Regions from separate parts of the Homo sapiens genome. Here region 2 is linked to region 1. Evidence: fine-mapped expression QTL. Tissue or cell type: whole blood. Region 1 holds a variant in brackets; the other region holds the start of a gene. All regions are shown on one strand. Distances are from middle to middle.

Region 1 (2,752 bases):
CTGGCCAACACAGTAAAACCCCGTCTCTACTAAAAATACAAAAATTAGCCGGGTGTGGTGGCACATGGCTGTAGTCCCAGCTACTTGGGAGGTTGAGGCAGGAGAATTGCTTGAACCCGGCAGGTGCAGGCTGCAGCGAGCCAAGATCGCCCCACTGCACACTAGCCCGGGCGACAGTGTGAGAGTTCATCTCAAGAAAAAAAAAAAAAGCAAAATTAGCTGGGCATGGTGGTGTGAGCCTGTAATACCAGCTACTTGGGAGGCTGAGATGGGAGGATCACTTGAGCCCAGGAGTTGGAGGCTGCAGTGAGCCAAGGTTGCACCACTGTACTCCAGTCTGGGTGACAGAGCACCTAGAGGGCCCTGTCTCAAAAAAAGAAAATAAAATGCATTTAATACACCTAACCTACTGAACATCATAGCTTAGTCTAGCCTACTTTAAACATGCTCAGAACACTTACATTAGCCTACAGTTGTGCAAAATCATGAAAAACAAGCCTATTTCATAATAAAGTGCTGAAAACCCTATGGAATTTATTGAACACTATACTGCAAGTGAAAAACAGAACGGTTATACTGGGGACTGGAAATATGGTTTCTACTGAACGCAGATCGCTTTCGCACTGTTGGAAAGTAGACAAATCATGTCAGACCATTGTAAGTTGGGGAGTGTCTGTACTCACTCAATACATGACCCCAAGCCTTGTGGAATGCCACGTGGGGGTCTATTATGTCCTTCCATAGCCAAGAATAGGTCGTGGCAGGAACTCCGGTTCCTTTGAGGATACCGACAGTTTCACTTTCTTTTGTTTCTCCGTGCTTCCCACCTCCCCGCATCCCCCCAACCCCACCAGCCTGCCAAGCCCGCCCAGCCAGCTGGGTGTTCTCGTGCTCTCCTCCCTCCGCCTCTGGCCCCAGCTGGTGGAGATGAATACAGTGTCAGTGTCTGAGCCACAGGGACGTTCCACAGGCCCAGCCTTGTGCTGCCTTCCGATCCTTGTCTTCTCCTACTTGCTTCACTCTATCCTTCTCATTTCAGCCCTGGCCGGATTTTTCTGCTGTGTGGTTACACGTCAGGGTCCTGGAGCCAGGCTTCCTGGGTCCCACCGCAGTTCCAGCAGCAATTAGTGCTGTGCCTGCAGCAAGCGGCTTCACTTCTGTTGATTTCAGTTGCCTAAGTGTAAACAGGAATAAGAACAGCGCGTGCCATAGTTC[T/C]GTTGTGAGCATTTACTATGAAGAACTTTCTTTTTTTTTTTTTTTTTTTTTGAGACAGGGTCTCGCTCCGTCTCTCAGTCTCTCAGGCTAGAGTGCAATGGCAGGATCTCGGCTCACTGCAATCTCTACCTCCTGGGTTCAAGCGATTCTCATGCCTCAGCCTCCCGAGTAGCTGGGATTATAGGCATGTGCCATCATGCCCGGCTAATTTTTGTATTTTTAATAGAGACAGGGTTTCACCATGTTGGCCAGGCCGTTCTCGAACTCCTGACCTCGGGTGTTCCACCCGCCTTGGCCTCCCAAAGTGCTGGGATTATAGATGTGAGCCACCGTGCCTGGCCCACTATGAAGCCCTTTCACACTGTCTGCCACACGACAACTACTGTTGGGGCTCAGAAAATGTCACCCCAATATCTGGTGCTTTGGCATGCTAAGTACTATGAACTACAGAAGACTGGAGGCCTCAAAAGCAAGGTCTCTGTGACGCCCTCCTGACCTCCTGTCTCCAGCCCCTCCTTCTCCCGTGAGGCAGTCACAGAACAAGAATTCCTCCTTTGGCAGGGGATGAGGTGACTCAAGTCTGTAATCCCAGCACTTTGGGAGGCCGAGGCAGGTGGATCGCTTGAGCCCAGGAGTTTGAGACCGGCCTGGGCAACATGGCAAGCCCTGTCTCTATAAAAAAAAATACAAAAATTAGCCAGTCATGGTGGTAGGTGCTTCTAATCCCAGCTATTCAGGAGGCTGAAGTGGGAGGATCACCTGAGCCCAGGAGGTTGAGGCTGCAGTGAGCCATGATCACACCATTGCACTCCAGCCTGGGTAACAGAGCAAGACCTTGTCTCAAGAAAAAAAAAAAAAAAAATCCTCCTTCTCCAAGGTGGGTCACAGAAACTAGAACCCGTGTCTCCAAAGTAGCCATAAAACCTAGAAAGGTGGCTCTCTCCCTTCTCTCTTTAAAGACCTCATTACAGAGGGGTTCTACCTCATACCCAGGAGGAAGGAATGCTGCATGGAGAGCCCAAGAAGAATCTGGACAAGACTTGTTCATTTTCTTTTTATCCAATTGCATTGCTACAGGGCTGTTCATTCTTCCTTGAAACTAAGCACAAAAATGGACAGATTTCCCAGGGCCTTTGAGTCTTCATCTCTGAAGCCTCCCATGTCACATGAAGCTTTGCTTAACTAAACTTGGTATGCTTTTCTCTTGTTAAGCAGTCTTTTTTTACAGGAGTGTCAGCTGTGACCTTTATGATGGGTGAGGAAAGGTATCACACCCTTCCGCCCCTACAGGGTCCTGTAAATGTCAGTTTAGTAAATGTCAGCTCTAATCCTAGGAGTTGTTTTGCGGTTTTTTTGTTTTTTTTTTGACATGGAATCTCACTCTGTTGCCCAGGCTAGAGTGCAGTGGCAGGATCTCGGCTCACTCCAACCTCCACCTCCCAGGTTCAAGCAATTCTCCTGCCTCAGCCTCCCAAGTAGCTGGGACCACAGGTGCACACCCCCATGCCTGGCTAATTTTTGTATTTTTAGTAGAGAC
Region 2 (2,752 bases), 40 kb before region 1:
CTGGAGAAAGAAAACAGTCGAAATGGAAGCCACCTGGCGAGCTCAGGGCGCCAGGTGGGAGCGCTGCTTCCCACATATGGGAGTCCGGCCCCATCGCTCTTTGATCTTTGCAGCGTCCGTGGCCCCACCGACCCCGTCGTGAGTTATGGGAGGCACGGGACCCATAACCCAGCATTCTCAGACTCCCAGGGTCGTCAGGACACGGCGCCCCGCGCGGTGATGGATGAGCCGGCCCCAGCGCTGGCTTTGTCCGGGTTGGGCCGGTCTGAGAAGCTTCAGGCCGGCTTTGGACGGGGCGTGGCGAGAGCCGCGCCGCGTGTGAGTGTGTGTGTGTGTGTGTTTGTGTGTGTGTGTATTGGGGCGGTTGTCTTTCTCCCTTCCCTACCGGGAAAGAGGGCACAGGTGCGCCGTCAGCGCCCCAGGTGAGCTGGTAGCACTTTGAAGACCCTTTGTACCCCTACATCCAGGAGCGACCTCTCGGAGAACCCCGCCTGCCCACTCTGCGCACTTTCTGCGGCTACAAAGGCCCCGCCGTTCCCCGTCCCGCCTCCCCCGCCCTGGGCATTTCTTCCGTCCCTTTTGACAGTCTAGGCGGAATAATCCTTTTGTGGCCCCGGGCCCCTGCCCTGACAGACGCGGCCGCAGCTGAGCGCGCAGCCTCGCTCCATTGTTGGGGTCCACCGAGGACCGCCCGCCGCGGCCCTTTGTCGCCCGCCCTGCGCGGGGCCGCTCCAGAGGCGCCACAACTGCCGGAGCCCCTCCCGTCCCACGCGCCCTGGGCCGCGCCGAGGCGGCTCTTACGCACCGGGAGGAGTGGGCCTGCCTCGCCCGGTGCCCGCACGGCTGCTGGGCTGCGCCCGCCTTTGTCTGCCTCCTTTGTCTGCCCCGCGCCCTCGCGGCGGCGGCGCCTAGGCCTCTGGGGAGCTGGCCCAGAACTCAGAGCGCAGCTGGCGAGGGCGCGCTGGCCGGGTGCGCGCCGGGCCCGGCCCCGGGGCTGCCCCTCGGCTGGGGGCAGTCGAGCCCGCCACCCGCCGCCCCTCCTCTGTCCCCTCCCCGCGCTCCCGCCCCCTTCCCTCCTGCCCGCCCACTCCCCCTTCCTTCCAGTCCCGCTCAGCCCGGGCACATCCTCCGGCTGCCCGCGCACCTCTCCACGCCGGCCCCGTTCCGCGGCTCGCCCTCGGCTGCGCTCGGCTCCCGCGGGCGCTCGGCCCCGAGCCCCTCCTCCCCCTACCCGCCGGCCGGACAGGTAAGGCACGGCCTCGGCCCGCCCCTGGCTCCGCCCCTCCCGCCCCACCTGGCTGCGAGCCCGGACAAAGGTGGGCTACCTGGCGCGCCCAGGGGCGGGGTGCGCGGGGTCCCGAGGCTGGAAGTGAGGATGCTGCCTCCTTCCCAGCCCTCGGACCCGTCTATCCGCCAGTCCTTCCGCCGCCTCCTCTCCTCGCCGCGTCTGCCCACGGACCCTGGCTCTGCTCCCGGGCTCCCCATCCGTCCACCTACCGCTGGACGCCCACTTTTCCACGCTCTGACACTCGGCCTCGCGCGCGCCCTCGCCGCCCTCTGGGGTCCCGGCTCGCACCTACTCTCCTCGGCACTAGCCTTCTCTCTCCCTGACCCAGTCTCCCTTTGTCTCTCTGTCTCTGAGTCTCCGGGTGGTCTCTCAGGCAGGGGGCCCCAGTCCGCCACCGTTGGAAGAAGTCTTCGAAGACTCCCTGAGCCCCGGGCAGAGCTGGCGGGCGTGCCCTCCAGCCCCTTTCGAGGCCGCCCAGGAGGCTGGGGTGTGTGGCCGGGGTCGCTGAGTGCGCCCGGAACCAGCACCGCCGGTGGCCCCGCGCCGTCCCATCTGTGCCCAGGAAGGTACTCAGCCTGGCTCCCCCGACGGCGCTGGTCTTTCGCCTGTGGTCTCCCGCTCTGTCCCTCCTGCTCCCCACCGCCGGCTTTTGGCTTTTCTCCGTCCGCTCGTCAAGGGTCTCAGCCGCCTTCGGGGCCGGGGTATGAGATGAGAGAGGGCTGGGGTTTCCCGCCAAGTCTTTCTTGCTTTCCTCAGCTGGGTGCTCCCTGGGCCATCCTCTCCGCCCGGTGGTCTCCCCTGCCCTATATGCTCCCTCCACGCTGCCCACCTCCCAGCCCAGTGACACACTGGTGTCTGGAACCGGTTCAGTACTATGCATCTGGAGTCGGGTACACTGGGGCTCTGGGAGTGATCTCGGACAAAGGAATGCACCTCTCTGAGCCTCAGTGTTCCTGTCACAAAACAGGGATGGTGCTAGTCCCTACCTATAGGGATGTGTGTGGAAATTGTGGGGTGCCGCTTGGTGCTGGTTCACACACCCTGTGGAGGAAGGGAGGGGAGGGGAGGGGAGTCTACAGACCTGGGATGGGGTGGGGACAGGGGGCTCCACAGAAATGGATCTCAAAGTCAAGGCTTAGAGACACTTCAGAGTAACCCCACCACCACAGCCTCTTCCCCCATCACACTTCCTGTCACCTTCACCTCCTCGTGCCCATACAGGCGTCCACACCCTTGCAAGCACTCTTCTCTTTCTCTCTCTCCTCCTCTTTGCTTGTCCTAAAATCAGCTAAAACAATCAGGGCCAATGGGTCACTTTTTTTCAAAATGAGATCAGTGTGGCTGAGCTGGTGTTGCCAACAACTGATCACCCATCAGAAGGCGTCCGGTGACTCACCCCCAATTCTGAACCTCAGTCTTGGCTTGATGCCTTTAATAGCGGCACCAGCTCACAGGCCACTTCCT

Evidence for each region. PIP is the estimated chance that this variant, and not a neighbour inherited with it, causes the effect.
Region 2: DRAXIN starts here. The variant in region 1 is fine-mapped to the expression of DRAXIN in whole blood (TOPMed, PIP above 0.99).

What each region holds. Positions count from the first base shown.
Region 1 is chr1:11,731,047-11,733,798 of GRCh38, forward strand. No RefSeq gene overlaps it. Among named protein-coding and RNA genes, the nearest start is that of AGTRAP, 3.7 kb to the right of the region's middle. RefSeq lists an enhancer at 1,046-1,135. The variant T/C (reference allele first, on the strand shown) is at 1,216.
Region 2 is chr1:11,690,608-11,693,359 of GRCh38, forward strand. DRAXIN (dorsal inhibitory axon guidance protein) reads left to right here and starts at 1,103. Exons shown (of 7, transcript NM_198545.4): 1 at 1,103-1,246. It also overlaps a transcript of MAD2L2 not described here. RefSeq lists an enhancer at 1-418.